7 linked regions of the Homo sapiens genome follow. The protein of the gene in region 1 purifies or fractionates together with the protein of each later gene. This does not show direct contact. Each region holds a gene or a part of one and is shown in the gene's direction. Other genes may lie near its edges.

The links.
Region 2: the proteins of SUCO (region 1) and NIPBL purify together in Homo sapiens (affinity purification with mass spectrometry; one large-scale study listed by BioGRID and IntAct). This does not show direct contact.
Region 3: the proteins of SUCO (region 1) and PREP purify together in Homo sapiens (affinity purification with mass spectrometry; one large-scale study listed by BioGRID and IntAct). This does not show direct contact.
Region 4: the proteins of SUCO (region 1) and ISG20L2 purify together in Homo sapiens (affinity purification with mass spectrometry; one large-scale study listed by BioGRID and IntAct). This does not show direct contact.
Region 5: the proteins of SUCO (region 1) and ELOVL5 purify together in Homo sapiens (affinity purification with mass spectrometry; one large-scale study listed by BioGRID and IntAct). This does not show direct contact.
Region 6: the proteins of SUCO (region 1) and TIMM23 purify together in Homo sapiens (affinity purification with mass spectrometry; one large-scale study listed by BioGRID and IntAct). This does not show direct contact.
Region 7: the proteins of SUCO (region 1) and TAPT1 purify together in Homo sapiens (affinity purification with mass spectrometry; one large-scale study listed by BioGRID and IntAct). This does not show direct contact.

Annotation. Positions count from the first base shown.
Region 1 is NC_000001.11:172,606,150-172,609,241, forward strand, and holds part of SUCO (SUN domain-containing ossification factor isoform 1 precursor), read left to right. Parts: intron 1-2,597; coding exon 2,598-2,653; intron 2,654-3,092. UniProt on the Homo sapiens protein: Required for bone modeling during late embryogenesis. Regulates type I collagen synthesis in osteoblasts during their postnatal maturation.
Region 2 is NC_000005.10:36,883,269-36,886,768, forward strand, and holds part of NIPBL (nipped-B-like protein), read left to right. Parts: intron 1-3,500. UniProt on the Homo sapiens protein: Plays an important role in the loading of the cohesin complex on to DNA. Forms a heterodimeric complex (also known as cohesin loading complex) with MAU2/SCC4 which mediates the loading of the cohesin complex onto chromatin.
Region 3 is NC_000006.12:105,375,583-105,379,082, reverse strand, and holds part of PREP (prolyl endopeptidase), read left to right. Parts: intron 1-1,563; coding exon 1,564-1,697; intron 1,698-2,827; coding exon 2,828-2,958; intron 2,959-3,500. UniProt on the Homo sapiens protein: Cleaves peptide bonds on the C-terminal side of prolyl residues within peptides that are up to approximately 30 amino acids long.
Region 4 is NC_000001.11:156,723,581-156,725,766, reverse strand, and holds part of ISG20L2 (interferon-stimulated 20 kDa exonuclease-like 2), read left to right. Parts: exon of another isoform or gene 1-1,202; coding exon of another isoform or gene 1,203-1,304; intron 1,305-1,418; coding exon 1,419-1,619; intron 1,620-2,186. UniProt on the Homo sapiens protein: 3'-> 5'-exoribonuclease involved in ribosome biogenesis in the processing of the 12S pre-rRNA. Displays a strong specificity for a 3'-end containing a free hydroxyl group.
Region 5 is NC_000006.12:53,346,151-53,350,240, reverse strand, and holds the start of ELOVL5 (very long chain fatty acid elongase 5), read left to right. Parts: upstream 1-1,290; 5' UTR 1,291-1,424; exon of another isoform or gene 1,425-1,891; intron 1,892-4,090. UniProt on the Homo sapiens protein: Catalyzes the first and rate-limiting reaction of the four reactions that constitute the long-chain fatty acids elongation cycle.
Region 6 is NC_000010.11:45,996,489-45,999,988, forward strand, and holds part of TIMM23 (mitochondrial import inner membrane translocase subunit Tim23), read left to right. Parts: intron 1-3,500. UniProt on the Homo sapiens protein: Essential component of the TIM23 complex, a complex that mediates the translocation of transit peptide-containing proteins across the mitochondrial inner membrane.
Region 7 is NC_000004.12:16,177,972-16,181,471, reverse strand, and holds part of TAPT1 (transmembrane anterior posterior transformation protein 1 homolog), read left to right. Parts: intron 1-1,814; coding exon 1,815-1,895; intron 1,896-1,902; exon of another isoform or gene 1,903-2,492; intron 2,493-3,500. UniProt on the Homo sapiens protein: Plays a role in primary cilia formation. May act as a downstream effector of HOXC8 possibly by transducing or transmitting extracellular information required for axial skeletal patterning during development. May be involved in cartilage and bone development.

The DNA of each region.
Region 1 (3,092 bases):
ATAATTTTGTTAGATAATTATTTAGAAATTTTGCATCTATATGAATAAGATTGGCATGTAATATTTTCTCATGTTGGATTTTGGTATGTAAGGTTTATAAAAATTAGATGGGCAGGGGTATCCCTTTTAATTTTTTTTTTTTTTCCCCTTCCATGCTTTCATTAAGATTTTTTATTGGGGAGGAAGTAAATATTCCCTTTTACTGCCATTATGTTGGAAGTTGTGTACTGGTTCTGTTCTTTTACTAGTTACCCTAGAAGTCAGAAGTATTAATGTTTGCCAAAGTCTCAAGTTCATCAATACTTGTATCTTCTCCTTAACAATACATAGATCTTAAAACTCTTATTTGTCCCAAGCCTTATTTATGTTACTGTTCTTGTATATTTTAATTCTATTCTTTCTGCTTAATTTTAACTCAACAAGGTATTTCTTTTTACACTTAATGTTCATTTAAATTTACCCCACGTTTACTAATGTTTTTATTCTTCAGAGCTTTCATTTGTCATTAGTTAAAACTGAAATATTCTCCTCTTCTTTTTCTTTATCATTTTGAGATTCGTGAGGCTCTTTGGAGCTCTGGATTTGTAGGTTTCTTTTACTTGTTATTGAGAAATTCTCAACCATTATTTTTTCCTCCCAGATATTCCCTGTGCCCCAGTCTCTTTTAGATTCTCATATTTAATTAAACATATTACTTCTCCGTATATCTTCCCTGTCTTGTAAACATTCCACCTTTTTGACTTTTTATGCTGTATTTTGGATGATATCTTCTGATGTGTTTCCAGGCCAGCAGTCTTACTGTTGCAAATTTATTCATTGGGTTTTCAATTTCAGTTATTTTTTCCATTTCCAGGAGTTCTTTTTGTATTTTTTAAAAATCCAGGTCTGTATTTTCCTTGTTATATGTTTCCTGCAGATATTTTCAAGCTTATTTTCTAGACATATTAAGCATAATTATCTTTATAGTTTGTGTTTGATAAATCTAATATCTTAAATTTTTGTGAGTCTGTTCATTGTCTTTGTAAGCTCTTACTCAGGGTATGTTGTGTCTTTGTGTGCTACTTTTTCTCTTTGAAAAGTTATTTGTAGGGATAATTTGAGGCCTAGAATATAGGTTCTTATTTGAGAGGGAATTTGTGTGTGTGTTACATTCATGTAATACCTTACATTCATGACTTGTGGTTTGTTGGGCCACCAGGTGATGATAATTTGGACTGCAAGTTCATGCATGGCTTCATTCTTTACCTGAGAATATAGTCCTTTGGAGTCTCAGTTTACTGTACACAGGGAGATGGTATCTTATTACACTAAACTTTGGGTGGGCCCTAGGACCTGATTTCTGATCCATTCCCTTATGATACCATCAGAACCAAAGTTCATATATTCTTGTGTTGGCAAATGTTTTCAGGGCAAAAATGACTTTTGTCTTCTACTTGACTGTCCGGGTTCCCACTTTTCTTTCAGTTTTAGCCTAGGGATTACTTTCTTGGCAGCTTTTCAATGCTTTTAGTGATTTTTTTTAAAAAAAACAAACTATCATTACTTAGTTGCTTTCATTGTAGAGGTTGATCTGAATAACATAACTGTTTCTAGAAATAGACATCATTATTAAAGAAAGTAAATTAAGATTAGTAATCTGGTAGAAATGACTGTTTAGAGGGATGTTTTGATATTTTCATATATTTGATGACTTTCTCAATAAATCTCTGAAATATAATGTAAAAAATTATAATTGGTTGAATTGTATTAATAAATTTCCCAAATGTGTAGAGCTTCTGTAGTGAATTTACTATGTGTAAGCTTTTGTCTCTGTCAGACCTTAAATTGTTTATTTTTAGTGGATTGAATAGGACTAAAGTCTCATAGCCTTTTAAAAATGTGTGTCTATTTTGTCAGTGTGGGGGTGGGGTTGGGATATATCTTGAAGCTGCTTAGAGTAATGAAACCTTAGAAACTTTGGGCTAAAACTAATAAATCTAATTTACTCACTATGCCAGAAGTGTTCATTCATTATTGCTTAGTGATATATATTGCATGTTCAAGCTGTTTTTAGATTGGGATTTCATAGTTTTGATCATAGTAATAAACAGAGAAAAATATCTTGGATCTCTTTTTGTGTTTATTTCTCTAACTGGCTTCCAAACACGGTCACGACTACTTGTTGCACATTGTTAATCTACCTTTGTGACACAGTTTAGAGGCTAGTCTTTTAGGGAAGTATTCAAATGATCTGTAGGTTTGGTGTGAGCTTACCCAGGAATGTTTCTTTTCTTATCAGGTAAAAGAGTGAGGCTGGGCCCAAAGAAAGATCGTTATTGTATTGGTTGATAACCAGCTACTAGTTAACAACTTAAGGAAGTATAGTTATTTGAAGACGACCAGTCAAGCATAGGAATCATATCATCTTCCACCTTGCCTCTTTTTGCTTACTAATTTAAAATGCATAAATATATAGTTAACCTGATACAAATTCATTGGTTCTATTACTAGAGGATAATAAGGAATGAATGATTTGTCTTATTTTAGTGTTTAATTATAGCAAATCCACCAAATCCACTTTACATTTTACATCTGCTTTTTTTTTTTTTTACTTACAGTAGACCCAAATGATTTGTACATTGTAGAACCCCTCAAGTTTTCTCCAGAAAAGAAGGTAATTGTTTATTTCTTTTTAAGTTTATTGCTATGTTTTGTGATAATAAATGAAGAAAAGAGGTTGAAAGGTTTAAGGTAATTACCTTTAAGTAGTCCTTAACTGAATGTTTATTTTCTATCATGATAATGTTGTAAATAAATATTAACAGGGGTCAGCAAGCTGTGACCCACAGGCCATATGGGCCATGAGCCAGATAGGTTTTCTCATTTTTAAAGAGTGATAAAACAGAACAGCATGCAAGAGAGAAAATGTGTGACCTGCAAAGCCTAAAATATTTACTGTCTGACCCTTCACAAAAAAAATTTGTTGATCCTTGGATGATTGTCATTATTTATTACCGAATGCATGCCAAGCACAGAGCATGCACCGTTCCTCTAATCCTCACCACAACCTGAAGATGATGTTATCCTCATTTTTTTTTTTAATAAAAAAACAG
Region 2 (3,500 bases), on another chromosome or scaffold:
ATACCAATTTCCTTTGAGTTCTCTTTTGTACATATTTCTCCTTTGACAGAAAAGAAAAACTTTTTCAGAAATTAGCAATATTAATTTATTAAAATAATTATATATATACTTTTGCCTCTCCTGAGAAATGCAGAAGCTGTGACATAATTTTAAAATGCTGGATTTCCTTTTGTTAGAATTAACATATTTGGGTCACTTATGCAGGTGAAATGCACAGTTATTTTTATATGAGCACTATTGAAAAAATACTATTCTAGATACATTAAAACTAACAAATGTCTAAAACACTAATTATTAAATTCTGACTATACTTTTAAAATATTAGTCTTTATGATTGATATTTATGATATTTAATTTGGTATTTGTAAAGCAAAAATGTCCTTTAATCCTGGTGAGGAAATACATTACAGAGTTTTCTCAACACTGCTACTTGTCAACCCTTTCAGTATTTTAAAACCTGCCTTTAGTTGTCTTTATTTGAATCAGATTGTGGGTTGCCAGTTTTGAGCCAAAGACATCGATCGTCTGAGTGTATGCTCTATGTAATTCAGTTTTTTTTTTTGGTAATGACCAAGTTGAAGTTTTACATGGTTTTAAGTTGGGCATAACTCCATTTATTATTTATTTATTTTTTATTAATACTATTCTTTAAAATTGATGCACATGAAAAAATTTCTTCCTAGGGTTCTGCGTATACCTCAGAAAGCTCTAAGATTGAAAGCTGAAATGTCATGACCTGAAAACTACTGATTCTTTCCCCTTTAAGAAAAGAATTTGGAAACTAGTGTTTATTCCATAACGTTACCTTCAAGTTATCCTGAAAGACACACATGACATACGCTTTTATTTAACTCTACTAATCTTTTTACTATTTTCTCTTTCCCTTTTTTTATGTATCTCTTCCTTTCACTATCAATGTCCATTTCATCTCCCCCAAAGCAAATTTTTACATACTGTGGCTAATATAGGTATTTGTTGTTAATGTGGTTGATCTTGTAATGTGTTACTTTCCCTGATGAAACCCAGAGCAGTTTCAGAGGCCTCAAATTCTGAGATCTTCCTAAGTTCAAAATAGATTGCTGGTAGAAAAGCATTGACATTAACCATGAAAATATATATTTGTGTATTGTTCCCACTTCTATAGACATATATTACTTTTCAAAATGTCAGCTCAAGGACCAGAAATTTTTTCTGAGGAGAAAGAGAAAGCATTGCCTTTACAAAAGTTTCCCTGATCATTCCATTTCATAGCATTTGTACAGTTTTTTACTTGTATCTCTTGATAAAATAATTTGTTCCTATATTCGTCAGCCATACTCAACCATCAGCTCTGTGAAAGCAAAGAGATTTTGTATTATCTTCATCTGTATGTCTATAACATCATCACAGTGCTGCTCCTGTTTTAGGTATTCAATATATATTTGTTGTTTAGTTAGAATTGAGCCATGTGGTATTTCTTAAAGGTATGTTTTTAAATCTAAGATTAGTGAATGGCAAGTACATTTCTCTTAATTTCAAAATATAATTTTCTTAGGTAGAGCTGTGTCCTTGAGGGCTTCTTGCTTTGGGGGTAGGAATATTTTATTTACATATATCCCTAACAATACATACATAACTTTATAAAGATAAAGAAAAATTTAAAGTTCCTTTTTAAGCTGTTAATGAGGATCGTGAAGTACAGGAAGGGTTTTTTGTTCTGATTCCTTAGGCAGTATAATTGGAGTAAGATACTGGAGTATTGCAAGAAGTGAAATATCTAAATACTTTCTTGTTTTAATCTTTGGATTTATTGCAGTTTTAATTTTTTTTTTGCCAATTTAAGTATTATATATAATCAGATAAGTTAAATAATGAGAAATACGTTACAGCACATAAAAAATGCTATTCAGGGTCAGCAAAGCCTGAGTCCTGTCCTCTCGCTCTCCTCCCTGGACAGCATGAGCTTCACCACTTGCTCCACCTTCTCCACCAACTACTGGTTCCTGGGCTCTGTCCAGCCACCCAGCTATGGTGCCTGACTGGTCAGCAGTGCAGCCAGCGTCTATGCAGGCGCCAGGGGCTCTGGTTCGCGGATCTCCGTGTCCTGTTCCACCAGCTTCCGCGGCGGCTTGGGGTCCAGGGGCCTGGCCAAGTGGATGGCCCAGGGTCTGGCAGGAATGGGAGGCATCCAGAACAAGGAGACCCTCCAAAGCCTGAACAACCACCTGGCCTCCTACCTGGACAGAGTGAGGAGCCTAGAGACCAAGAACCAGAGACTGGAGAGCAACACCCGGGAGCACCTGGAGAAGAAGGGACCCCAGGTCAGAGACTGGGGCCATTACTTCAAGACCATCGAGGATCTGAGGGCTCAGATCTTTGCAAATACTGTGGACAATGCCTGCATTGTTCTGCAGATTGACAATGCCTACCTTGCTGCTGATGGCTTTAGAGTCAAGTGTGAGACAGAGCTGGCCATGTGCCAGTCTGTAGAGAACGACATCCGTGGGCTCTGCAAGGTCATTGATGACACCAGTGTCACTTGGCTGTAGCTAGAGACAGACATCGAGGCTCTCAGGGAGGAGCTGCTCTTAATGAAGGAGAACCACGAAGAGGAAGTAAAAGGCCTACAAGCCCAGCTCACCAGCTCTGGGTTGACCGTGAAGGTAGATGCTCCCAAATCTCAGGACCTCGCCAAGATCATGGCAGACATACAGGCCCAATACGACGAGCTAGCTCAGAAGAACCAAGAGGAGCTAGACAAGTACTGGTCTCAGCAGATTGAGGAGAGCACCACAGTGGTCACCACTCAGTCCGCGCAGGTCGGAGCTGCTGAGATGACACTCACGGAGCTGAGACATACGGTCCAGTCCTTGGAGATCCATCTGGACTTGATAAGAAATCTGAAGGCCAGCTTCTGGAGAACAGCCTGAGGGAGGTGGAGACCTGCTATGCCCTGCAGGTAGAGCAGCTCAACAGAATCCTGCTGCACCTGGAGTCAGAGCTGGCACAGACCCAGGCAGAGGGGCAGCACCAGGCCCAGGAGTACGAGACCATGCTGAACATCAAGGTCAAGCTGGAGGCTGAGAGCGCCACCTGCCACCGCCTGCTTGAAGATGGCAAGAACTTCAGTCTTGATGATGCCCTGGACAGCAGCAACTCCATGCAAACTATCCAAAAGACCACCACCCGCTGGATAGTGGATGGCAGAGTGGTGTCTGAGACCAGTGACACCAAAGTTCTGAGACATTAAGTCAGCAGAAGCAGGGTACCCTTTGGGGAGCAGGAGGCCCATAAAATGTTCAGAGGTCATTGGGGGAAAATAGGCTATTCAGTTAAAATAGTTATCTGATGACTGAAATTTTTTTAATATGTCAGGTGTATTGAGGTATAATTTATACAGTAAAACTCAGTCTTTTGGGTGTGCAGTTTGATGAGTTTTGACAAACATACACAGTCTTAAAACCACCACCACAATCAGAATATTTCCATTACCCCCAAAAGTTCCCATGTATCCCTTTGTA
Region 3 (3,500 bases), on another chromosome or scaffold:
CTGGTCCTCTTGCAAAAATGTTAATTACTGTATTCATACTTTACATCCCTTGTCTCTTGTTTTTAAATGCATTGTAATCAATGAGCTTTGGAACAGTTTGTCTCACCACAAAATCATGGTTCTGCAGAGTGGGATTGGTGGTTTTTGTAGGGGAACCCAAAGCATTGTTGCACATTTGAAGACCATTGTGAGCTTGGATGGGCCCTTAGAGTTTGATGATATATCCAAAAGTGAACTCTGATAATAATGCATTTTTCCCTGCCATTCAAAGTATATTATGGTCTTAATTTCCTGAAGTTTTTCCCTGATGATTTACTTATTTATAGACATCTGATGAAATCTTCTATTGAATTTAAAGCTGATACAATGTTCTTGTTTCATTTCTTGCTAATAGCCAGATGTGAATTACTAGTAGCCAAGTTTTTATGGTATTGTCAACTTTTTAACTGGTTAGTTACAAATAGGGTGTGCTTGGATACAACTCATCTTTTGTAAAAGCCCCTTTTCCTGCCTTCACTACCAGTATTTCCTGATGGCCATCTCTTGCCTTTCTTATAAACCATGTTGCTGATATTCTTCTGCAATGCCACTTGTTTCAGGTGTTTTTTGTTTTTGTGTGTGTTTTAAGACAGTCTCCCTGTGTCGCCCAGGCTGGAGTGCAGTGGCACGATCTTGGCTCACTGCAACCTCTGCCTCCCGGATTCAAGCGATTTTTGTGCCTCAGCCACCCTGAGTAGCTGGAATTACAGGCACCCACCACCACGCCTGACAAATTTTTGTATTTTTAGTAGAGACAGGGTTTCGCCATGCTGGCCAGGGTGGTCTCGATCTTCTGGCCTCAAGTGATCCACCCGCCTCAGCCTTCCAAAGTTCTGGGATTACAGGCATGAGTCACTGCACCTGGCCTCCAATGTTTTTTCAATGTTCTTTGGTTGCAAATTTTAGCAAAGTTCTCTGATTGAAATTAACATGGTAGTAGGTCTTACAAAGCCAAAATCGATAAAATAGCGCCTGGGTATCCCTAACTTTCTCTCTTTGACTCTGACTTCTCTTGGGATGGCCAGGTGCTGAATAAGAATCCCGGAACCATGGCACTGCGTAAATGCAGATTATTGGCAGTGTGTGATCTGAGCTACAGTATAGTGTGTTTGTTAGGAGCGTGGATCTGGGAGCCAACTCTGCCATCTGCCACTTCCTAGCTGTATGATGTCGGGCAACTTTTTAACCACTCCAAACCTCAGTTTCCCAATCTGTAAAGTTGGCCTAATAAAAGGACCTTCTCCATAGGATTATTGTGAGTTCTAAATAAGTTAATACTTGCCCTGTAAGCATTAGCTGAGTTAGTACCATGTAAGCATTGGTTGTTACTACATATTAATCAGTCACTTGGCAGGAGCTGGGCAGGTATGAAGAAGAGTAAGGAGGTGAGAGAGGCTGGTAATGAGAGAGAAGAGGCACTGGCTAAGAGACAAAGTGTGCTTTTTCTGATACATATTAGTGGATAATATTTCACATGGAAAATTTTATATTTAACTTGCTTTGTCCATTTTAATTTCTCCACAGGCCTTTGTGGAGGCCCAGAATAAGATTACTGTGCCATTTCTTGAGCAGTGTCCCATCAGAGGTTTATACAAAGAGAGAATGACTGAACTATATGATTATCCCAAGTATAGTTGCCACTTCAAGAAAGGAAAACGGTGAGACTGCTTTTACTGAATTTCCTTTTTATTTTCAAAGTAAATGCTTTCTTAAATTGTAAAATACAAATTCCAGATAACTTGTCCTTGTATAAGATTAATTCATTATAAGGAATTAATTTCTATGCCTGAATATGAGAGTAATATTTTTGATCTATTAGGTATTGTCCAAATTGTTAAAATAATAGTTAAGAAATTTAGTAGGGATAGGTCATATAAAGAAATCTAGATTATAGGAAATCGTCGTCTTATCGGTAGTAATTGGTGAGATAGGATGATTCATAGACAGCAGTGGAGGTTTGTTTGCCTCCGAAGTTAATTATCTTTGATGTATACTACTTGGAAACATTTAATTCTGTGTTTTTCTTCTGTCAAAGAATGGTGAAATGGGTGAATTCACTTCTCTTGTTCCTGTCCCGTTAACACCCACTTACAGATGTTTTCTTGATCTTTTATTAAATCTCTTTGGAGCCACTATCACACATTTACTTTAGACTTTCTTCAGCCCTCTGCCATTCTTACAGAGATCGGCAACGTACAGTCTGCCTACCAAACCCTGGCTGCCTACCTATTTTTATAAATAAGGTCTGATTGGGACACAGCCATGCTTATCGGTTTACGTATTGTCCATAGCTGCTTTTGTGCTGCAGCTACAGGCCTGAGTATTATAGTGACAGACTGTATGGCTCACAGAGCTTGAAATATTTGCAGTCTTGCCCTTTACAGAGAAAGTGTACTGACCTTCCACCCTAGCAGCCTTGCTAGGGAAAAGAACCAGAATTTTATTTTAGAAAAGTCTGCTTTCTTCTTCATTTAAAAGAAAAAGTTACTGCTTTATTTGAATATCAATTTTTATTTTAACACATAAAATGGTCTTTATTTGCCTCTACTCGGCTAATGTGCAGGATTACAATACAGGATTTGAATATGGAAGCAATTCTGTTAACAAGCTCTAGGTAGAGAGAAATGATGGAACCTTTCACCCATGTCCCCACGTCCCTGCGATGGCCAGATTACAGTGGTACCTTTTTAGGTCTTTGGTTTTGTTTTGGTTTTTGCTTGTGTGTGTTTGGTTTTACTCCACAAATAGAAAACTCCACAGCTGAATAAAGACCATCTCTGTTCCCCAGGTATTTTTATTTTTACAATACAGGTTTGCAGAACCAGCGAGTATTATATGTACAGGATTCCTTAGAGGGTGAGGCCAGAGTGTTCCTGGACCCCAACATACTGTCTGACGATGGCACAGTGGCACTCCGAGGTAAGTGCTACACAGAGAGGCCCGTGGAACTCCTAAGACCCTCACTTGGAGCTCTGAAGTTAGTGCAGTTGCTTTACCTCTGAAATGCCAGGCAGGGTGTGGACCATATTGTGGAACAGATGCACATACAATATCAGGAAAGCTAATTTTTGCACAGTATATTTAGAATACATGAATAGTCACATTCCTCTTTTCCACTCTGATGGCATGAAGCAGAACTGGAAAATAATTAACACTGGACCCAAATTAGCTTCTAGGGCTTCTGGAATCTTGACATATCATCATCATTTCCTCCAACATCCCTGAGACCTACCTGTGATTAGAAAAAAATAAGTCGTCTTCTATAAGAAGTTTAAGCTGTACAAAGATTATTCCAACTATAATATTAAACAGGAAAGAATGTTTATCAGATCAGTTTCCCTCTTGGGAAGGAGGCGATTAGAGTTTTAAAAATCTAGTTAATTGTCAACATGTTAGAATTACAAGTAAAAACACACAAATCTTGTAGAAATTGAACAGCTGGGTATCCTGTTCCCTGAAGA
Region 4 (2,186 bases), about 16 Mb from region 1:
GAAGATGGGACGGGTCTGAGACAGCAAATCTGCCCAGCTTTGATGAGGGCTATATGTCGAGGTTAATAAGAAGTGAAGGTGGTGGTGGACAGTAAGTAGGTGAAGTCAGGAGTAACGAAATATCTAGTTCACGGGACTACGTCTGGTTTTCATCATAAAGCACTTCCCCAGTGCCAAGCTGGGGTTATGAGACTAAGGTATGTCCAGATGAGCCTAGCCCCTTCAGAGGGGGTCCCTTTGGGAGGCTATGCAGGACTGTCACTTTTGTTGAAAACCTGTTTGGAACCTCATTTGGGAATGGCCTTCAGAGCCTGTGGTGTGTTCTTCGGTTGTCCTCATTGGTAGCATGTCCTCCTACTTCAAGAGCCTGAAATGGCTAGGTGTGGTGACATGTGTCTGTAATCCCAGCTACTCAGGAGTTTGAGGTGAGAGCATTGCTTGAGCCCAGGAGTTTGAGGCCAGCCAACCTGGGAAAAATAGCAAGACCTCATCTCTTTTAAAAAATAAGTTACCTGAAGGCCAGGTGTGGTGGCTCACACCTGTAATCCCAGCACTTTGGGAGCCTGAAGCGGGCAGATCACAAGATCAGGAGTTCAAGACCAGCCTGGCCCATATGGTGAAACTCCGTCTCTACTAAAAATACAAAACTTAGCCAGGCATGGTGGCAGGTGCCAGTAGTCCCAGCTACTTGGGAGGCTGAGGCAGGAGAAACGCTTGAACCCGGGAGGCGGAGGTTGTAGTGAGCCAAGATCGCGCCAGTACACTCCAGCCTGGGCAACAGAGCAAGACTCCATCTCAAAAAAAAAAAACAGTTTCCTGAAATATTGAGAAGTTATTTTTATTTTACTTGGTTCCAAAACTAGTGTGAATAAGGTTGCTTCTGCAACTTTAGTTTATATGTGATTCTTAATTTTTTACGGTTTGTAGACTCTGAGAATTTGATGAAAGCCACAGATTCTCTTCCTCTAGTACCCATACACATCTAATTGCATGTAATTTTGGGCTTTTGTTAGCCTCCCTGGAGCCCGGGTCCCAGCCATGTGTCTAAGGCCAACATAATGGTAATAGTTAAAGGACTTCATGTAGCAAGCCAGAACTGAACTAAATACATGGACATCTCAAACATGAGTGTCATTTAGGACTGAAGGCAAATTAATGTCATGGGGTGGAGATCAATAAGAAGGTAAGGAGCCACTGGCAGTATGAGTCCAAACAGGGTATACCATGGAAATCACCTGTGGAAGAGGAAGGTGGATTCCAGAAGAAAGAAAACTTGTGGGAGTGAGCATTTCAAGGATGGAGAGGTAGGCAGTTGGTGAAAGAATCCAGAAGGGATTGATGGTCATGTTGGGCTTTCAGAATGCAGGGGTTCCACTTCAGTCTTCCTTCTCACCACTCTCTTCCCACACTTCTTCCAGATCTTGAAGATACTCACAGGGAAGATAGTGGTGGGGCATGCCATCCACAACGACTTCAAAGCCCTTCAGTACTTTCACCCCAAGTCCCTCACCCGTGACACCTCCCATATCCCCCCCCTCAACCGGAAGGCTGACTGCCCGGAGAATGCCACCATGTCTCTGAAGCATCTCACCAAGAAGCTGCTAAACCGGGATATCCAGGTAGCATCTCCCCACATCCCCCGCCCCCATCTTGGACATGGCTCTCGTTGATGCCCCTAGCCAGACTCTGATCTCAGAAGTCCTGTGGTTGTAGAGATCCAGGTGGGCTGCTGTGATGGGAAGAGCTCCATCTGTACACAGGATAATAATTCCTGTTGTCTACCTCATAGAATGTTTCAAAGTGTGCTTTGGAAAAGGGAAAAAGTCCTAAGTAGATATAAAACCCTAACTAAGGAAGAAAGCAGGTAGCAGTGGTGGTCCAAGAGACCGTGTAGTGGATGCAAGGACCGCTCGTATTTTACACGCTATATTTCAGCAAAGGGTGGCCCATCTGGCAGGAAGATGGGGACATATGTCACATATAGAGCAGTTAAGGAACTAGGGAAAGTGGAAGACTCAGAAGACCTGTCTTTGACCTGGTATGTTCTATCTCTACAGAACCTAATATGGCTTATACATACTGCCACAGAAAGGACTGAGGTAGACAGTGGCAAAGACTTCCTAGGAGTTGAACCCCTGAAATTACATAAGGAGTAGGACCCCACCAGAATTCTGTCTTTGTAGGCT
Region 5 (4,090 bases), on another chromosome or scaffold:
CAATGGCCCACTGCCTGGAACACAGCTGGCACGTGATAAGCATTACATTGTAAATATGTAAAAGAATAAATTTGCCGGCCAGGCTCGGTGACTCACGTCTGTAATCCCAGCACTTTGGCAAGCTGAGGCGAGCGGATTACCTGAGGTCAGGAGTTCGAGACCAGCCTGGCCAACATGGCGAAACCTCATCTCTACTAAAAATACAAAAATTAGTCGGGTGTGGTGGCGCGTGCCTGTAATTCCAGCTACTTGGGAGGCTGAGGCAGGAGAATCGCTTGAACCCGGAAGGTGGAGGTTGCAGTGAGCTGAGATCGCGCCACTGCACTCCAGCCTGGGCAACAGAGCGAGACTCTGTCTCAAAAAAGAAAAAAAAAGAAAAAAAAGAATAAATTTGCCTACATTAAATAGCCGACTGTTAGGTGGATGCACATAGAGGAGTAAGAATACAGCAAGAGGGGCACACGAAGAAAGGCTAAATCTCTGGGGTTTGAATGGGGAAACAGTAGGATACAAAGCTAATGAAGGTCTTTAATTATCCAAATATCAGTGAAAAACAGCAAGGATCTTCCGTTTATGCCCTGAACCCCCTTTGTCTTAAGTGCTTAAATATGCTTAGCTGAAAAGACACTGATTCCATCTTTCCTCATTTAACAATCCTTTAGAATAATTTCTAGAGTAGAAATGGAGTTGATAGTGGCTTCCAAAGAAAAATCAGAATCCCTAAGAAAAATACACGGTAAATCCTTTGCAAGGGAGTTATGGTTACAACAGTTTTGAGTCGTTTTGTTCTTGTTCCTTTATCTTGTTCAACTGCAGACCTTCACTCCGGCGGTCTCCGTGGGCATTTAACCCTTTCAGCTTTAACGATGAAGTGGATCCCCTTCAGCATGACATAACTCATAGAGGAGACCGTAACGAGGGTGGGCTTCTGCCACCCAAATGCGGCCACAGACTCCTGCCACGCCTGGCAGTAAAAAAACCAGAGTTCAGGGCATCGACAACTTCACCGGGGCTATTGCGCAGGCTCTGCGTTCCACGCAGGCTTATTAGGAAGAAAGGGGAAAAAAATTTCCCAGAGACACGTGGAACCGAGGGGCCAACCCCGGCCTAGGCTCTCCACCGCATCGGATTCTGGAATTTACGATCACGAAAGTTCTATTGTCCCGCGATTGGCTCCCGGGCCGCATGACATCATAGCGCTTGATTCATCCTTCGGGTCCCGATTGGCTGGCCGCGCCATTGTGACGTCACGGTCAGCCCACGTTCTGATTGTAGATAGCCGGCGCCTTCCTCTTCCCATCGCGCGGGTCCTAGCCACCGGTGTCTCCTTCTACATCCGCCTCTGCGCCGGCTGCCACCCGCGCTCCCTCCGCCGCCGCCGCCTTGCTGCTGCTCAAAGCTGCTGCCGCCCCTTGGGCTAAAAGGTAAAGCCGTCAGCTCCGGGAAACTTCGTCGGGGGCCGCCGCTCGGCCATGACACCCGCGCGAGCGCGCGGCCGGGAAGCGGTCAGAGAGAACTGCCGTTAGGTCTCGGACCTGGTGCCGAGAAAGAGCTGCCGGGGCAACCCGCGCTCCGCCCGCGGCCTCCAGCTCCGCCGGCTCCGGGGTACAGCCCGGCTCCTCGGGCGCGGGGAAAGGGGTGCGGGTGCGGGCGCGGGCGGCTCGCCCCACGCCGAGGCTGAGGCAGGGCGCTCGGGAGCGTTCTCTGTGCTGCGGTCCCACCTGTGCGCGCTGACAGGCGCCGCGGGGCACGACACCGTGCCCACACCAGACGCGGAGGGATGGATCTGTCCGCCTGGGTCCTCCCGCCCTGCGGGCCGGAGCGCGCGGCGGGAGAGCCGGGGGAGCGCTCTCGGAGGGAGCGCGCTTTCTTTGGAGTCGGCGAAACCCGGGTGAGTTCGAAGAGCCTGTGCGAGGGTCTGCGGGCACCGGGCGCCGCTGGGGGGACTCTCCGGCCTTTCCTTTTTGTCCTGTTCTCTCCGCTTCCGTTAACCCTGCGGACCTTCCGTCCGCCCCTCGGAGGGAAGCCTGCTAGCTCGGGACCGCTTCAGTTTTTATTGAAACCAGACAACGGCAGCCCTTGGTACTCAGGGAGGGATGAGGCTGGTGGGAAAGCGAGAGGGCGGGGACTCGGGGGCGACCGGGGCGGCCCTTTCTGGGAGCCTGATCCCTGGAGAGGCGGGAGCGGTTGGCTGCGAGGGAGGCGCGCGGCGGGGGGGCGGTTGTGCTCTGCGCCGGGGGAGCTAGAGTGTGTGTTGTCTTGCGAGTTGTAAGGAAAAGTGCCTTTTTACTGTTTCCACGCCGGTAAGACTCTCCCACCCCACCACCTCGGGTCGACGGAGCAATGCCTAGAGCAAGAGTTGTTCTTGCTGAACTGCGTCTTGCAACCGTTCCGTGTTCTTGCACTTGGCGGTTCCCCCCGCCCCATCCACAATTGTGAATTAAGCTCCTTGATTGCAAATTTGGAGAATGCATTTGGCCAGTTATGCAAAGTGGCGGAGGTGGCGGGGTCGGGGGCGGGGGGTCTCTTTCGGAAGAATCCAGTGCATGGTTTATTAGCTAGACTGAGGAACCGAGAGGTGCTAGATGGGATTTGTGGGGAGCGAGCAGCCTAATTTGTTTTAAATAGCGGGACCCGTGGCAGGAAGTGCTTCATAGAATTGTACGGAAGAGCTGATGTTGCTTGTCAGGTTTTGTAACTCATTCTCCTAACCGCTTGGCAGATAACCTGTTGGTCTGCACTTGTTTTGCTTGCACGTCTCAGCCAAAAGCATTTCGTGCAGAATCTACAGATAGAAACAGGCGGTTTTGCATTAGATGGCCGTGGACAAACATTTTAGCCTTCCATCTGTGATTGGGGACAAGTGGGTTACTTTTCTGGTAGCTCAGACACTGCCTGGGATTCTCCAGGAAAGCTCTGCACTTGAAAGGGAAATGTTACTCATTTTCCTTTTAGATTTTTACCCTAGATTCTAACTTCTTATTGCCAGGAACTTTTTCTGTACTGTTTCTCTTTTTGCATTTTCGTTTCTATTTCTAATTGAAGACAAAGGGGAAATTTTTATTGATAGTTACAGATAGGTAATGTTACAGAATGTAGTACAGAACTTTGCTGAAAAGCGACAGTAGAAGGCTTACTAAAATTTGATGTTTTTCAAGAAAAATATCTTGTAACTTCAGATATTGACCTCACCTCCTTGACTCAATTTCCTTGTCTATACATGGGGATTTTATGTGGCAGGATCATTGTGGATTTCAAGAGATAATGCAAATGAGAGCCCAGCATTGAGTCTGCCAAATGGTGGTTTGAAAATGTTTCCTTCCCATTCCCTGAAATCAACAGCTTCTTCTTGGTTACAGACCTTAATTTTTGGATGTTCTGTTTGCAAGAATCTTTTTTTCCACTACCTCTTCTTTTGCTCCCTGCATAATGGTTGCTTGTCTTCCTGCTTCTAGAGGTGAGCATCCATCCTTGGGTGTCTTATTTCCAGCTTGAATTACACAAATCAAAGCAAAACTGTTTACTTTTCTTGAGGGTAACTTTGGTGCCTAGGTGGGTAGTTAGTGTGAAGAGAGAGTTTTACCTCTTGCTTTCCTGGCTACATTCTTCTCTCCTAAAAGATTTTGTAATTTTTTTTTTTAATTCCTCCTCTTTGCCTACCAGCTCTTCTGTTATCAAAAGGCTAATCCTCTCATTAGTTACCTGTAAATAAGTCTTTCCTTGAATGCTTTCTGTGTCAGGTACTTATTAATACGCACATGTACATAAACGGTTGCTTTCCACACGTAATTCTTATAACACCTCTGTGAGGTTTTATCCCCCAGTTGTTTTTTAAGAATTGAGGAGCACTATGAAGACACATGCACACGTATGTTTATTGCAGCACCATTTACAATAGCAAAGACTTGGAACCAACTCAAATGCCCATCAATGATAGACTGGATAAAGAAAATGTGGCACATATACACCATGGAATACTATGCAGCCATAAAAAAGATGAGTTCGTGTCTTTTGCAGGGACATGGATGAAGCTGGAAACCATCATCCTCAGCAGACTAACACAGGAACAGAAAACCAAACACTGCATATT
Region 6 (3,500 bases), on another chromosome or scaffold:
GTGGTGCATTTTAAATGAAACAAGTTCCATTAAGTGCTTATTGCTGAAGGTATAATTCAGTGAATGTTCTTTCCTTTTCTTAGAGCAGAGTTTGGTATTTTATTTTCACCTAAGCCATTTTGGTTCAGTTCTTAAGGCTTTGATTATTTTTTTAAGTTGAATGGTGTTTAGTGTGCCCATGTTCATAACAGCATATTATTCACAACAGCCATACAGGCTGGGTGTGGTAGCTCATGTCTATAATCCCAGCACTTTGGGAAGCCAATGTGGGCAGATTGAGTCCAGGAGTGTAAGGGCAATATGGTGAAACCCTGTCTATACAAAAAATTAGCCGGGCTTGGTGGTGGGCACCTGTAGTCCCAATTACTGGGAAGGCTGAGATGGGAGAATCACCTGAGCCCAGGAGGTCAAAGCTGCAGTGTGCCTTCATTGTGCCACTGCACTTTAGCCTGGACGACAGAGTGAGACCCTGTGTCAAACAAAAAAAAAAAAAAAAAGATAGATTCTAAGAGGCCAAGGCAGGCAAATGGGCAGATTGCTTGAGCCCAGGAATTGGAGACTAGCCTGGACAACATAGCTACTAAAAATACAAAAAATGAGCTAAGCATGGTGGTACATGCTACTCCCGAGGCTGAGGTGGGAAGATCACTTGAGCTTGGGGAGGTCAAGGCTGCAGTGAGCCGTGATCATGCCACTGCACTCCAGCCTAGGTGACCCTGTCTCCAAAAAAGAAAAATGTGGTATATACATAGAATAGAATATTATTCTGCCTTTAAAAAGGAAATTCTGACAGATGGTAAGACATGGATGAACTCTGAGTACATTATGCTAAATAGGCCATCTATAAAAAAAAATGGTGTGATTCTACTAATGTGAGGTACTTAGAATAGTCAGATTCATGTGAGGTACTTAGAATAGTCAGATTCATACAGAAAAAAAGTAGAATGGAAGACGGCTGGGATGGGGTGTAGTTATTGCTAAATGGGCAGAGAGTTTCAGTTTTGCAAGATGAAAAGAGTCCTCTGAAGATAGATGTTGGTACACAGAGCACCGTGGCTCACGCCTGTAGTCTCAACACTTTGGGAGGCTGAGGCAGGAGGATTGTTTGAGCCCAGGAGTTCAAGACCACTCTAGGTAATATAGGGAGACCTCATCTCTACAAAAAATTTAGCCCGGTATGGTGGTGCATGATTGTAGTCCTACCTACTTAGGAGGTTGTTGTGGGAGGATCACTTGAGCTCAGAAGGTCGAGGCTGCAGTGAGCCTTTACCAAACCACTGCACTCCAGCCTGGGCGACAGAGCAAGACCCTGTCTCAGAAGAAAAAATAAAGGAAAAGTAGATGTTGGTAATAGCACAGCCGTGTGAATGTACTTAATGCCTCTGAAATGTACACTTAAAAATGGTTAAGGTGGTAAAATTTATGTTACATGTATTGTACCATAATTCTTAAAAGAATAAAGTTTTTTTAAAATTTTAAGACAGCTGCTGACAGTCCTCAACAATGGCATTTAGTAGTCATGTTAGTATGTAGGTAAGGCTGTTCCTATAGAACAGGAGCCACCAACTCCTGCTGGCCAGCTGCCTGTTTATTTGCTGTGAGAAGGCTAAGAATGTGTTTTACGTTTTTTAGTTACGTTTTAAATGGTTATATAAGTACCTACATAACAATAGCCTTTGACCCTCAAAGCCCAAAATGTTTACTATCTGGCCCTTTTAAAAAAGATACATGTTAATCTGTGCTTTAAAGTCATTGTCATTTGAATGCATTAGTTCTGCCACTAATCAACCCTATATCCCACAAACAAGGCACTTAAATATTCTGGGCCTCATTTTCTCATGTATAGAAGAGGTGGTGCTTGCCTATCGCTTTGGAAGAACTACATAAGGATCCCAAAATACAGGAGGTAAAACTGAAACACAAGTCATATTTGCTTTGCTTTATAGAGATTGACCATTGGCCTTATTTGGTTACTCTGTTCAAAGCAAGTACCTTTGCTTATCAACTTCCTGTGCTTAGTTGTGTAGAGTTGTTTGAGTAAAGAAACCCTAGAGACCCTTAAACTTGCAAACACATCAACCAATTGGGAAACCCTGGAATTAACGGAAACAGTTACAATTAGAACATGGCTGGTATGTGGTAAAAGGCCACCCTTGAGTAAAGATGCTATGTGATAAGTACAAACACCAATGTTTAGTGTCTTGTTGGAGTTGATTTTTTTTCTCTCTGGCTTTTAAGAAGTAACTTCATCGATTTGAACTAAGTTTTTGATTCATTTGGCAAGAAAATAGAAAGCTTTTGGGGGAGTAAATTATTTAATATGTTACTGGTGTCCCAAATATCTTTTTTTTTTTTTTTTTTTGAGACAGAGTCTTGCTGTATCGCCGAGGCTAGAGTGCAGTGATGCAATCTTTGCTCACTGCAACCTCCACCCACCAGGTTCAAGCAATTCTTTTGCTTCAGCCTCCCACATAGCTGGGATTACAGGTGCCTGCCACCACACCTGGCTAATTTGTGTATATTTAATAGAGATGGGGTTTCACCATGTTGGCCAGGCTGGTCTTGAACTCCTGACCTCAAGTGATTTGCCCACCTTGGCCTTCCAAAGTGCTGGGATTACAGGCCGTGAGCCACCATGCCAGGCCTTTTTAAAATTTTTTTTTATTTTTTGAGACCAGGTCTGGCTTTGTTGCCCAGGCTGAAGTACAGTGGCACGATCTTGGCTCACTGCAACCTCCACCTCCTAGGCTCAAGCAATCCTCTCACCTCATCCTCCCAAATATCTGGGACTACAGATGCATGCCACCATGCCTAGCTAATTCTTTACATTTTTTTGTACAGATGGGTATCGGGGAACCTGCCCCGATAGTCGCGTACATTCTTTTCTATTTTCCTTAAGCGTCAGCCAGCTTGAGAAATAAAGGGACAGGGTACAAAAGAGAGAAATTTTAAAGCTGGGCATCCGGGGGAGACATCACATGTCGGTAGGTTCCATGATGCCCCACAAGCCGCAAAAACCAGCAAGTTTTTATTAGGGATTTTCAAAAGAGGAGGGAGTGTGCGAATAGGTGTGGGTCAGAGACATCAAGTACTTCACAAGGTAATAGAATATCACAAGGCAAATGGAGGCAGGGCGAGATCATAGGACTACAGGACCAGGGCGAAATTAAAATTGCTAATGAAGTTTCGGGCACCATTGTCATTGATAACATCTTATCAGGAGACAAGGTTTTGAGAGCAACCGGTCTGACCAAAATTTATTAGGCAGGAATTTCCTCTTCCTAATAAGCCTGGGAGCGCTATGGGAGACTGGGGTGTATTTCACCCCTACAGTCTACAGACCATAAAAGATGGCCACACCCAGGGGGGCCATCTATAGACCTATACCCCCAGGCGCGTATTCTCTTTCCCAGGGATGTTCCTTGCTGAGAAAAAGAATTCAGCGATATTTCTCCCATTTGCTTTTGAAGGAAGAACAGTATGGCTCTGTTCCACCTGGC
Region 7 (3,500 bases), on another chromosome or scaffold:
TGTCCAAAAATCAAATACAATTAATTTAAATTCGATGGTAGTTTTGCTTTGTTAGAGTTTACAAAAGTTACTTTGGCTCATTTCAGATAGTGTTTTAAATTTCTCAAGGCCATTTATTTTCAGATAATTCTGTAATGAAGCAAGTCTATATTATACATGTTTGGGAAGTATCAAAAATAAATACATTTCATTGTTAAATTCATTTATGGAAATTAGAAAGGACTTAGCACACATATAGGTACAGCTTGGTGAATAATTCTACAGAATTCCAATTAAAGATACATTGGTAAATTTAACCCCATGAATTAAGATCCACAGTTAGCTGTAGTAACAAAGAATATATTTTGTGTCAGACTTTGATGGAACTTATTCTAGGGCAGACTTTTCTTAGTTTCCTTTAACCTGTATCCTCTTTTGAAGTCACAGAATAAATTAAACATGTGATCTAGACAAATCAAAACAGGTGCACCTGAAAATCCACATGGCCTTGCTCCGGAGGTGCCCTGCCTCCTAAAGAGGCATCTCAGTGCTTGGTACCTTGAGACTCACTGTGCCCTGAGCTCACACTCATAATAAATAGTGCTTCAGCTTTGGAAATAGGAAGTGAGTAGTGCCCACTGGGCTTTGAGGGAGTGAAGGCACAGCTCAGACCCATCACTAATAAGGAGGTGAGCTACCCTGAAAAAGAAGGTACCAGCAACTGACTGGAAGAGCTTAAGGATGTAGGGAAGGTACAGAGAATAAAGGCCAACTCGCTTACAGAGAATAAGGTTTTGCTGTGGAATAAAAGTTTGTATCATGTTGCTAGAGAATAATGGGGAAAGGTGGAAGTAAAAAAAGAGAAGCAAAGACAGTCCCATGAAGTACATCAGGATGAAATTGAAATTCAGAGCGCTTACAGGAGGTGCGCCATGGCTGAATGATATGGGTGAGGCTTGCATTTACTGAGGCAGTGGGAAAGTAGGGAAATGACAGCAGACTGTAAAAAAGCTTTTGAGATGGGTTGTTATATGAGTGATTGTTTCTAGTCACAGCCCCCACTATTGCATCGGCACACATACATGGGTGTGCCACTCTTAACTGCAGACAAATTTATTTTGTCCCATTTCTTGGTTACACGGTATCTTAGACTATGAGAAAGTTAACAGCTTAAAAAGTGAAATGTGTACACTGGCCTTTAGCAAGAATTCAGTGATTTGCTTTTATTAAATTCCTTCCACCTAATCTCAGCACACAGTTATTAGTTTATGGTAAATATTATGAAGCCCAATTTGGGGTTATTTTACCTCAAGTTCTACATACACCCCCGGAAATGCTATTGTAGTAGCAGGATTCTCTCAGCTAAAGGACTCATCAGTTCAGTAATTGTGTACTATTTACCAGATTGGAAATAGTCTGGGATTTTATACAAGGATTTTGTTACCCAAAGTCTTTCATTTTACTCTTTGCTTCTATTTTTTCTTCCGTAAAATGGAAACAGTTGTCATATGTCCCCAAAGCCCATTGGAGGAACCTAATGACCTCATCTGAGCAGTTTGATGGTTTGAATACTTTTTGAAGTTTATAGAAAACTGGAATTTCCATACTAGAATTATGTTGGCAAAAGAAGTCAATGGCTTACCATGGTAGCACCAGCCTATATATACACACACACACACACACACACACATATATATATATATAAAGTTGTATATTTATAGACATTTATACATCGTCTAATAATTTCATCATGTTCTGGCTAAAATAATTATATATGTACTTTATTATGTTGTTTATATACACTACAGTACTTATGTTGATTTTTTTTCTTTTAGATATTAAGGAACGATTCACAAATTATGTGCTTTTACTGATAGTGTGTCTAAGAAACATGGAACAGTTTTCTTGGAATCCAGGTAACTCACTCTTAACAAAACAGTGTCTTATAATTTTACTTCTAAGCCAAAATCATTCTTTTACATGGAATAAAATGAATATTGCAGAAAACTCCAAAAGACTTTGGCTGTTTTACTGTTTGGGTATTGGTGAAACAATCATCTGTCACTTAATGACCTTCAGTCAACAATAGACCACATATACGATGGTGGTCCCATAAGATTCTAATGGACCTGAAAAATTCCTGTCACCTGGTCTCCTAGTGTCCTTTTCTGTGTTTAGACATGTTTAGATACACTTACCATTGTGTCACAGTTTGCCTGCAGTATTCAGTATGGTAACGTGCTGTACAGGTTTTGTAGCCTAGGAGCAATAGGTTATACCATATAGTCTGGGTGTGTGGTTATACCATCTAGGTTTGTGTAAGTACCCTCTATGATGTTAACACAGTGACAAAATTGGCTAGCAACACATTTCTCAGAATGTATCCCTGTTGCTGAGCGACACATGACTGTACCTGTTTCAGTAGAATGGATTGGGTATGTTTTCTGTGGTGTAGTGGGATGCTGTCATTTTCCATAAACTCCTCAGTGTCTCTGGAGCTGTACACTCAGTAGGTGAGTGCGCCCTGTTATGCCTGGCAGCTCTGAGCCTTTCGGTTTTTAACTGTAGTGTACTTTAGTTACCTAAATCCAGAAAGATTGTTTTCATCTTAGGGGTTAACCAGGAGAACCTTTGCTCTTCCCTAACATTATCTTTTACCCATTGATTAGCATTTTAAATAGGGATAAATTAAATATAAAGTAAGGTGGAAATTTTGCTACTTAGGTGCGTCTCTGAATTCAGGCTGACAGGAAATTGTCAAGACTCCATGAATTTTCATTATCCATTCAGTTAGCAGACATTCACTGAGCATATGCTAGTTTCTAGGCACAAGGACAGGCACTGTGGCAATGTAAAAAATACTACGACATTTGTAGGACTTAACAGGCTAATTAAGGGGAAGTGGGTAATTATAATGCTAAGTGAGCTAAGTGGGAAATGATCAATTTCTCAGGTATCTCAAGTAATTTAGAGTTTTTGTTTGAATGTCTGACGTTTTTGTTGGAATCTCATTCTTAAAGGATGCAACCATGTTTTGGATTTCATTTATTACTCCCAGTATTATATATGTTATAGGCATTTATTAACTTCTTAATTTATTTTAATTCATTGGTAATTTTCAAGTAACTGTGAAAAATCAAAAACATATAAAATGAGAGATACGGTCTTGGAGATACATTTTCAGAAGTTTTTTTCATAGAGAAACCATAAGATTAAATGACATCTCACAGCAGCTCGAGCAGGCTACCTGGCTTGTGGTGGAAAAGCCTCTTCCTCCACACACACAGCTAGATTCTTTGTGTACCCAAATTTGTTTTAGTGAATGGTGGTATATTTCTTTATAACTAAGTCACCTAACAGGGTGTCCATGAAGGGCAGAGGGGGTATGTGTCACTGGTTCCGGTAGAGTACATGTAAGATCAGCAATTCCCAAAGCTGAGTGGTTAAACCAAAAGACAAATAGTCTTTATGCCTCCTAGACAGCTGGATATTTGAAGTCATATTCTCATTTATACTGTGAC